Linked DNA regions of Homo sapiens. The protein of the gene in region 3 purifies or fractionates together with the protein of the main gene of each other region. This does not show direct contact. Each region holds a gene or a part of one and is shown on either strand. Other genes may lie near its edges.

The links.
Region 1: the proteins of RTF2 (region 3) and CBS fractionate together in Homo sapiens (co-fractionation; one large-scale study listed by BioGRID). This does not show direct contact.
Region 2: the proteins of RTF2 (region 3) and TENT4B purify together in Homo sapiens (affinity purification with mass spectrometry, with the first as the bait; one large-scale study listed by BioGRID). This does not show direct contact.

The regions. Positions count from the first base shown.
Region 1 is NC_000021.9:43,058,686-43,062,335, reverse strand, and holds part of CBS (cystathionine beta-synthase), read left to right. Parts: coding exon 1-25; intron 26-1,789; coding exon 1,790-1,895; intron 1,896-3,032; coding exon 3,033-3,110; intron 3,111-3,367; coding exon 3,368-3,502; intron 3,503-3,650. UniProt on the Homo sapiens protein: Hydro-lyase catalyzing the first step of the transsulfuration pathway, where the hydroxyl group of L-serine is displaced by L-homocysteine in a beta-replacement reaction to form L-cystathionine, the precursor of L-cysteine.
Region 2 is NC_000016.10:50,156,293-50,159,942, forward strand, and holds part of TENT4B (terminal nucleotidyltransferase 4B), read left to right. Parts: intron 1-3,650. UniProt on the Homo sapiens protein: Terminal nucleotidyltransferase that catalyzes preferentially the transfer of ATP and GTP on RNA 3' poly(A) tail creating a heterogeneous 3' poly(A) tail leading to mRNAs stabilization by protecting mRNAs from active deadenylation.
Region 3 is NC_000020.11:56,513,502-56,516,812, reverse strand, and holds part of RTF2 (replication termination factor 2), read right to left. Parts: intron 3,018-3,311; exon of another isoform or gene 2,976-3,017; intron 2,729-2,975; exon of another isoform or gene 2,508-2,728; intron 1-2,507. UniProt on the Homo sapiens protein: Replication termination factor which is a component of the elongating replisome. Required for ATR pathway signaling upon DNA damage and has a positive activity during DNA replication.

The DNA.
Region 1 (3,650 bases), on a different chromosome or scaffold from region 3:
ATCGCGCAAGAGGGGCTGCTGTGCGGTGAGTGGGTGGCGGGCACGGGGGTATGGGGAAGGCAGAGATGGCTAGGGGGCACTGGGGATGGCTGGGGGCGCACCCTCAGTCAGCCACCGACCTGCATGTGTAAGACAGCAGTTCTGAGGAGTGTCACTGCGGCGGCCACGAGCCTCAGGTGTTGTCTGCCTGCCCAGTGTGGTCACCTGCTCAGGTGAGGGCAGGAGGCCATGGGGCGGGGCTTCGAGCTGCCTTCCAGAATGTGTTTCTAGAACAAGGCTGAAGCTCTCATGGCACTTATTGTTTCTAATCAAGTCCACCAGGGCCCCTGGGGCGGTGGCTCTGCATTGACGGGGCCCATGGCCGGGACTGGGTGCTGCGAGCACCCTGGAGCAGCTGGGGAGGGGACTGGAGCCTGAGGCTGTCCAGCTCGACCCCGCTCACCTTCCTCCTACCCCGTGCCCCTCTGCCCACCTGCTTGGGGGTGGACAGACCAGGTGGCCGCTGGCAATGCCACTGACTAGCCACACAGGCAGCAGAGGCCCTGTAGGGACCACAGTTGATCTAGACCTCTGGGGACTCGGAGAGCACACACCAGCTTCTAAAACGCAGGCAGGGACATGTGAGGTTTCTACATGTGCATTCCGTGTGTCATGTCACTTTGGGGGTGGTGACAGGGAAAGTGGAAGGAAACCAGCCCTCAGCATGGCCAAGTCCCCCGTTAGCTGAGCCCCAAACTAGAGATTGGAAGAAAGTCTTGATTGAAAAACCATTTCCCAGCCAGGCGCGTTGGCTCATGCCTATAATCCCAGCACTTTGGGAGGTCGAGGCGGGTGGATCACCTGAGGTCAGGAGTTCAAGACCAGCCTGGCCAACAGGGAGAAACCCCGTCTCTACTAAAAATACCAAAAAAAAAAAAAAAAGTAGCCGATGTAATGGTGCATGCCTGTAATCCCAGCTACTCGGGAGGCTGAGGCAAGAGAATTGCTTGAACCTGGGAGGTGGAGGTTGCAGTGAGCCGAGATCACGCCATTGCACTCCAGCCTGGGTGATAAGAGCAAAAACTCCATCTCAAAAAAAAAAAAAAGAAAAGAAAAGCATTTTCCAGATGAATCTGTCACGAAAGGTGACTTGGTGCCCATAATCGTTGGGCTCTCCCTGTCTCAGTCTCCCTGCTCCCCATGTTGGTGGAGAAACAAGCCCCTGCCTTTGGGGCTGGAAAGCAGGTCCATGGGCCCCGTTACAGAGGAGGGTGCCTCTCTTCCTGTGGGGGCTCCTACTGCAGACTTAGACCTTCCCGACTGCTGTGTGCACCCTCAAACTAAGCCCAGAGAAGACGCCTCTGACTCTGACTTCAGGGCTCCTAGGGACAGCTGGTGTCACTGTGAGCCTTGGTCTCTTGTTTATAAAGCAGAGCCCAGTGTGCAGTCAGGCAGCCTGCAGGCGTGGTGCTGGGGGCTCCGTCCTCGTAGCATCGCTGGCTCTAGGCTCAGGGCCAGGAGGTTTGCCAGGGGCCGCAGCCCCACTGCAGGCATTTCCCTGGCACCAGTGCCCACCCCAGCTCATTATGAAGCCCCGAGTGGACACAGAAACTCCATGGTGCACAAGGAAGAAGCCGATGCTCACGGAGAAGTGGGGTCCTCCCAGCCCCTCTCCCCGAGGCAACCCCTCTTGACGGATCCTTCGGAGTGTGTCTGACATGCTCCCATGCGTGCACGTGCACAATTCATGCATACGTGTGCACCCACGCACGCTCACCCTGGCGCGTCTGACTCGTGGCCCTCTCTGCAGGTGGCAGTGCTGGCAGCACGGTGGCGGTGGCCGTGAAGGCCGCGCAGGAGCTGCAGGAGGGCCAGCGCTGCGTGGTCATTCTGCCCGACTCAGTGCGGAACTACATGTAAGACACGGCTTCCCTCCCAGGTCCCTGCTCCTCTCCATCCTGCCACCCTTCCCTGGATGCCTCTCACGCCTCACCTGAGAACCGGCAGCCAGAACTGGGAGGGGAGGAGGCCAGCGGGGCCCTGTGAGCACCGCCTCCACTCTCCTGCCCACGTGCCCTCACGCTGTGGGGCTTCCCAGCCTCTTAATGCTGTGAAAATCAATGCACACTCGCAGTGACAGCCCTGACAGGAGGGGCATGAAAGACGGTGGCTCCCTCTCTGTCCCTCCTGTCCCTTCCTCTCTGGTGTCTGTCCCCCTCACTGCTCTGGGGTCCGTGAGCTCCAACGGGTAGCCCTGGCCACATGGACTGACGTCCTCTTGGGCCGGGCCCTGTGCCACCTCCTATCCACCCTGACTCCCTCTGCTGCTTCCCCCAAACTCCAGATTGGGACCGAGTGCTGCCCAGGTGGCCCCCTAGGACTTGCTGTGACTGTTTTGCCCAGAGGCCCCTCGGACAGTAACGCCACAGACCTCGCTGGTCACCGGGCAGCCAGGCTGAGACTGGCGCTGCTCTGCACCTGGTCTCCGGAGGCGGTACCAGGGCGGGTGTCTACAGACCCCCATGCCCTGTCCCCTGCACCTGCAGGGTTTCCTCCATGGCCTGCAAGCTGCAGCGGCTACACAGCTCCCGAGAGCTCAGCTGCCCTTGGAGGGCCAGGCCTGGCTGGTGGGTGCCCCCAGTTGGGTTCCCCAGTGTGGGGTGATTCACATCTGGTGCCCAGGGTCAAGATGCCCTGTGCAGGGCTCCTGCCCACCCCCGTCAGTGCAAGAACACCATCTCCCCACATACTTGGCCAGCCTGCCATGTGTACCTGTGCGTGTGAGTGTGTGAGGGGCAGAGAGCGAGCATGAGAGGACGTGTTTATCTGAGTGCCTGAGCGATGGCTGTGTGCATGCTCACACACGCTTGTTGGCCATGGGGGCGGGAAGTCCAGCCCCCAGGCTTCCCCCTGGGGCTTCCAGCCAGCACTTGGGGGTCTCTGCTGCACCAGTGAGGTCCAGGAGAGGGGCTGGGCAGGCAGTGCGTGCCACTCAGCAGGGGCGGGGGCCCGGTGGGGCCCTGCGGGGACTCGGTGACTCCCCCATCCCGCAGGACCAAGTTCCTGAGCGACAGGTGGATGCTGCAGAAGGGCTTTCTGAAGGAGGAGGACCTCACGGAGAAGAAGCCCTGGTAAGACCGCTCGGCCGGAGACCCGCTGCCTGTGCTGGCCCTGCCCAGTGTGACAGGCAGGAGAGCACTCCCCCGTGGCCTGTGCTGGCCCTGCCCAGTGTGACAGGCAGGAGAGCGGTCCCCGTGGCCTGTGCTGGCCCTGCCCAGTGTGACAGGCAGGAGAGCGGTCCCTGTGGCCTCCTGCTGAGGTGCTGCCGGCGGGGGTGCGAGAGCGTTTGTCCTTATCCTGATCCCCCCGACCTGCCCTCTTCCCTCAGGTGGTGGCACCTCCGTGTTCAGGAGCTGGGCCTGTCAGCCCCGCTGACCGTGCTCCCGACCATCACCTGTGGGCACACCATCGAGATCCTCCGGGAGAAGGGCTTCGACCAGGCGCCCGTGGTGGATGAGGCGGGGTCAGTCTCAGCCCCTGCTCAGAGCTCAGTCCTGGGTTCTGTCTGCCCAGCTCCACCCCGTCAGTGTCACTGGACAGGGCAGCCATGCAGACCCTGCAGCTGGGCTGATAGGCCCGCCTGGGCCGCCTCATACAGACGTTCAGGGCAT
Region 2 (3,650 bases), on a different chromosome or scaffold from region 3:
TGTTAAGAGTGTCTGGGTGCTTAGAAATTCTTGCTTTGATTCATGTATTCTGATTTTTTTTTTTTTTTTGAGACGGAGTTTCGCTCTTGTTGCCCAGGCTGGAGTGCAGTGGCTCGATCTCAGCTCACCGCAACCTCTGCCTCCCAGGTTCAAGCGATTCTGCTGCCTCAGCCTCCCGAGTAGCTGGGATTACAGGCGCTTGCCACCACGCCTGGCTAATTTTTTATTTTTAGTAGAGACGGGGTTTCTTCATGTTGGTCAGGCTGGTCTCGAACTCCTGACCTCAGGTGATCTGCCCGTCTTGGCCTCCCAAAGGACTGGGATTACAGGCATGAGCCACCGTGCCCGGCCTCATTATCCTGATTTCTTTTTTTTCTTTTGAGACTGGGTCTCACTCTGCTGCCTAGGCTGGAGTGGAGTGACGTGATCATAGCTCACTGTATCCTCTAACTCTTGGGCTCAAGTGATCCTCCTGCCTTAGCTTCCTGGAGTAGCTGGGACTACAGGCACATGTCACCACACCTGCCTAATTTTTTTATTTTTACTTTTTGTAGAGATGGGGCCTCCATTTGTTGCCTAGGCTGGTCTTCAACCGGCCTCAAGCAGTCCTCCCACCTTGGCCTCACAGAGTGCTGGGATTATAGGCATGAGCCACCATTCTCGCCAGTATCCTTATTTCTTAACTTTAGAAAGTTTTTCTATTTTTAATATAGGTATTTAAAAAAATCTGAATTCAGAGTGCACCTCGATGTTATGCTGTTCTGAGATTAAATATACTAAAACTGTTACCATTGTTTTCTGAATTCTTAAGATGTGACTGATAGTTAGCTAATAGGTTAACACATTGTGGTGGTTCTTGGCCTCTGAACTGATAGTCCAGATGGGGAGAGGAGACCAGAAAGCATGTGAAAATGGACTAGAACCATGGGACAGCTATATAGTCTCTCGCAGCTGTCTTTTGTGTTCTCTGCTTCCACCAAATTGGTTGATTTATTTAGAATGCTGACCTCTTGCATTGCCTAAGTCCTTGATGTTTTTGGTTTCTCCTCTGAACTCTCAAAGGTACTCACTTCATGCTCTTGGTATAGCCCACTTATGTTTAACTTTCCTTTTATTATGTGTTCCCTCTTACACATGACATGGACATTTCTTTAATATGTAGAGTAAGATATTGGATTTCATCCTAAAGTCTTCAAAATAAAACTCTTGAGCTCATCATCTCAGACTTCTTCATGTACCCACAGACCAGGGATTTTGTTTGCTTTTTAAAACATTTTTTTATTTTGTGTTTTATTATTTTTAAATTTTAATTTAATTTTATGGAGACAGGGTCTCGCTCTGTTGCCCAGGCTGGAGTGCAGTGGTGTGATCTCGGCTCACTGCAGCCTTTGCCTGGGCTCAAGCCATCCACATGCCTTGGCCTCCCAGTGTGCTGGGATTACAGGTGTGAGCCACTGTGCCTGGCCTAAATTTATTTTTTTAATTTTTTTTGAGACAGGGTCTTGCTCTGTCGCTCAGGCTGGAGTGCAGTGTCATAATCATGGGTCACAGCAGCCTTGGCCTCCCAGGCTGAAGTGAACTTCCCACCTCAGCCTCCTGAGTAGTTGGGACTACAGGCGAGTGCCACCATGCCTGGCTCATTTTGGTTTTTTTTGTAAAGATGGGGTCTTGTCATGTTGCCCATGAAGGTCTCCAACTCCTGGTCCAAGTGATCCTCCCGCCTCCGCCTAGCAAAATGTTGGGATTACAGGTGTGAGCCACCATGCCTGGCCTTATTTATTTATTTAATTATGAATGAATGAATGAATTAATGAGAGGGAGTCTTGCTCTCTTGCCCAGGCTGGAGTGTGGTGGCACAATCTTGGCCCACTGCAACCTCCGTCTCCCAGGTTCGAGCAATTCTCCTGCCTCAGCCTCCCGAGTAACTGGGATTACAGGCGCCCGCCACCATGCCCAGGTAATTTTTGTATTTTTAGTAGAGATGGGGTCTCACCATGTTGGCCAGACTGGTTTCGAACTTCTGACCTCAAGTGATCTGCCCACCTTGGCTTCCCAAAGTGTCAGGATTACAGGCATGAGCCACCATGCCTGGCCTGGCCTTTTATGTTTTAAGTTGCTTCCACTGATTCTCTTGGGCTTTGCTCCCCTCCAGAACTGGCCATGGTTTAGGATGCTGTCCACCTGCTGCTGCTTGTCCATGAAAACGAGCCATAAACCCTTTTCTTTTGAAAGACTTAATTGTTTATCACTATGGAGAAAGAGGGGATGGCAAGAAGTAGCAAATACAGGGAATTTGCAGAACTTGGTCTTGAGCCCTGGGTCCAGAAACTTCTTCTGGAAGGTGCTTGGTGTTTGTCCAAGCTCATGATAGGTTTCTGTTGGCTGTACTGCCAGATCTGTAGATGCTTTTTTAAGGCTTGGATGACTTGTTCAAAACAATGTTTTGGAGTACAAATTTGGCTGTGGGGACATCAAGACCTTGTTGGGAAACTTGGGTTTAAGGTACAATTTCTTAAACTAGGATGGTGGGAATGGGGATGTGAAGGGAGAATGAATGTGAGAGGTATTACAGGGTAAGGATGGAGATGATTCAGATTCCTTAAGTGGATTTAATAATCACACTGTAGCTTTGAACTTGAGTGACTGGGGAAATATTTGTGGTGTTTTTGGAAATAAGGGCCAGAAGGACTATTGGTTTGGGTAAGAAGATAGTAGGGGGATGTATAGGTGGACCTGCTAGTGGGGAGCTGAGATTTGGAGGGCTGAGATGTAGTGCTCTTCACTGCCGTAGGGCAGTATCCTCTTGTATGTGCCATCCTCTAGTGCCCATTGTTCATCATGTCATAGTAAGCCCAAGATGTTCATGCCTTTTTTCAGCACTGCATTAGGGCTTATATCTGCTTCTCTTTCTCTCTCTCTCTCGCTCTCGCTCCCTCCCTCTCTCTCTCTTTCTGTTTTTTTTTTTTTTTTAGACGGAGTTTCACTTGTGTTGCCCAGGTTGGAGTGCAGTGGCGCGATCTTGGCTCATTGCAACCTCTGACTCCCGGGTTCAAGCAATTCTCCTGCCTCAGCCTCCCAAGTAGCTGGGATTACAGGCATGTGCCACCATGCCTAATTTTGTATCTTTAGTAGAGATGGGGTTTCTCCATGTTGGTCAGGCTGGTGTCAAACTCCCAACATCAGGTGATCTACCTGCCTCGGCCGCCCAAAGTGCTGGGATTACAGGCATGAGCCACCGCGCCCGGCCTCTCTCTGCTTATTTCTACACAGTGTTACCAATGAGATTGGTGTTACTGCTGGGCTCCAAAGCAATCAGACAGATTAAAGTAGATTGAATATGAAAGAATTTAGAGGCCTTTTTCCAAGTGATTTGTGCTCTATTTAATTTCTGTGCATTTGCAGATATAGCCCACAGTAATTCTTAGTGAACTAGAACCTTCAGGTTATTGAATTTTACTGATTTGGGTACTGACATGCGCTTTTAAGAAGACATTAGGTTTTCTATAGTGTAGATTGTACACTAACAATATAATTCATATTTAAGAATGTCTCAAAATTTAGTATACTGTGTTCAACTAACTTAACTTTCTTTGTTTTTTTTGTTTTGTTTTGTTTTTGTTTTTTGAGACGGAGTCTTGCTATGCCACCCA
Region 3 (3,311 bases):
AGTCACTCTGAAGAAGGCTTTTGATGTTCCGTAACTCCTAAAGCCTTCACCCTCTGCATGTGACACCAGTCATGCACTTCTGCCTCACACAAAAATGTATCTGCACAGAGCTGCTCACTTTTATATTTACATCTCCCAAATCACATTTGCAAAAATTTAAATGAGGCTGACAGATTTCAGTAATAAGGGCCAATGTTGATGGTGACAACTGTATACAAAAGCGCACTTAAATGAGTAACACAGAGTATATATGGGTATGTGAAGTCCAGCCAGCATAAACACCAACTAAATCTTGCACATTCCACTAACTTTTTTTCAAAGCTGTCAAACTGCTTTGGTATTTGTTATTCAAGTGTAAGGCCTTGAAGTTTATATTAAAGACAGTTGAGCTAATTCTTCTAAACTCAAAACTACTCTTGTTAGATTTCCAGGCACTAGAATTCTGCTACTCATAATAGTTATTTTGATCAGCAATAATAAAACAAACCATTCTACGGTCACACAGCTGCGTTGGAATTGATTTAATCGCAGAAATGACAAGTAGGACTATGTTCATTTAATTTACTTTAAAATGTCAATTTCCTAAGCATCCAAAAGGTGGCACTAAAAATAGGCAGCCTGATTACTTCAGCCATCTCCCAGCACTGAGCATTAAAGAAAGACCTCTCAGGCCTTGAATTTCTAACATATACATGCAGTGTGATTTATAACAGAACATAAAGACCTTCTGTGCATTTCACACATGCAATGCAAGCATTCACATCTGTGAAAACTGATACTCGGTCCTTCAAACAAATAAGAGACAACTGTTTACTTCTAAGCCCTCCATTCACAGCTGAGGTTATTTGAAAAGCACAGGCAAGAAGGAGTTAGAGAGGAAATGTTATATCTTGCTTCCAGCTGCAAGTGTATTTGGGAAATATTTTGGTATCCTGGTAGCAGTAGCTATGAGGTATTCCCAGAAGCTCTGGAGAATATTTTGCAGAGAGGAGCATGTTAGTCCCACTGGGCTTTGAATTAACTTGGCAGGAAACCTGTGACAGAGAAAACTCACGAAAGCAAAATGGTCAAAGGGAATATGAACATTTCTAGTAGTTTCCTTTGAAATGCATTTTTTCCGTGTGTGTGTGTGTGTGTGTGTGTGTGTCTCTGTCTGAGACAGAATCTCACTGTGTGTGTGTGTGTGTGTGTGTGTGTGTGTGTGTGTGTGTGTCTCTCTCTCTCTCTCTCTCTCTCTGTCTGAGACAGAATCTCACTCTGTTGCCCAGGCTGAAGTGCAGTGGTACGATCTTGGCTCACTGCAACCTCCGCCTCCCAAGTTCAACCAATTCTTCCGCCTCAGCCTCTGGAGTACATGGGATTACTGGCGCACGCCACCACATCCAGCTAATTTTTGTATTTTTAGTAGAGATGGGGTTTCACCATGTTGGCCAGGCTGGTCTCGAACTCCTGACCTCAAGTGATCTGCTTGCCTCGGCCTCCCAAAGTGCTGGGATGAAAGGTGTGAGCCACGGCACCCGGCTGCCCTTTTGTGTTTTTTAAAACTGAGCTTGATCAATGGTAGCAATTAAGAACAGGGAGATGGCTTTTGGCAACTGTCCTTAGTTAAAAAGACCTCAAACTTAGTTTCCCTCTTTTTTTCTCTCTTACAATAATGAAATCATAGTAATTTAGAAAACCAACTTAGAATTAACACACTTTATATAAGATACACATGTATTTACTTTTCAACCTGAACACAGCATTTCAATGGCCAAGCGGCTTTTTTTTTTTTTTTAGAGGGAGTCTGTCAGGCTGGAGTGCAGAGGTGCGATCTCGGCTCACTGCAACCTCCGCCTTCCGGGTTCAAGTGATTCCCCTGCCTCAGTCTCCCCAGTAGCTGGCATTACAGGCACACGCCACCACGCCCGCCTACCAAGTGACTCTTTAAACAGTTGTTAGGAATGTTGTATTAACATCTTATAATATTGCTCCACGGAGTATTTCTACTCGCATCTGAATTCAGAGTTTGGGCACCGTTCCTTGAACTACAGAGCCATTTTCAGACATTATTTTCTACCTAAGTAAAACGATGAAGGGAGAAAATACAAATGCCTTTGGCTCTTTCTGATCATTCTGGATCCATGCATAATGGTAATACTGCTACCATGTGCTCAAGCCTCGGCTTTTTAAAGCCTCACAACCACGAATTACACATTATTCCAGGGTGATACGGTCCTGTCTTGTTATGATTTTTTAAAAACCCCAAACCTCTGAAAAATCTTCAGGTACTCCATCACTCTCGCCTCGGACTGGCACTGGTAAAATGCACACCCACGCGAGGGCAGGCGATTTGTTTCATAATTTTATGTCCTCAGCCTACTGGAGCTAATTTTCTAGTACTTCAAGCATTCTTTTGCCTTAGTTCTGATCACATAAAGTTTTCTCCCTAGCTTATCCTGAACCCAACTTTTTTTTTTTTTAAAGAATAAGAAATTTGCCACTCACGAAAGGCCTGTATTCCATAGCTATCATCTGTAAACATGAACAACATTTACTGCTGGATGGGGAATCACCAGCGCATGGAAGAACTCTTGGTGGATGCGTTGTCTGGAGCCTGCTCACTCCGCCACGTTACTCAGCAATGCTTTCCCTGTTTCTGGATACCACGCTCCCTTCTGAACGATGAAGCATGAAGCACCACGCTCCATAAAAGACCCTCCCTCTCCCCGTGGGAGGGCTCAGGAAGGTGAGGGATTTGGCCCCCATTTTTGGGAAGGCTACTCATTAGCTCCTTGTTATTCAAAGTGTGACCCTGAGGAGTTGCATCCACACGCCCTGGGAGTGGGTGAGACGCACAGGCACCCAGGCCCACCCAGGCCTGCTGGAGCCCAGACTGCCAGGGCCCTCCCGAGCACATTCCAATCTGGGCAGCAGGGGAGCCTTACATTTTGCTGGGATGATGGTGACTTTTCATTTTTCCTTTGTTTTACAAGCTATGAGACCTGAGTATGTACTGCCTTAAATCAACAGCAACAGTAAGTGACAGCAGCAGCAACGGTGGTGGCTGCCCTTCCCCAAGGGCTTGCTGAGGCCGTGTCAGTGTCAGTGCTTTATGGCCATGGTCTCTGGAGCCTGCTGACAGCTCCGTGCCCTCGCATGCTGTCACTACCCCACTTCACTGATGAGAAAGCTCGGCGGGGAAGAGCAGAGCCGCCGTGCTCACCACAGCAAGGCAGTGCCTGGGCCTCAGCTGGAATCTGCTTCTACAGTCCAGGCCCTTCTAGGTTATAAAAATCGCCTTGATCATGCAAACCCCTAAGCAGCTGCCA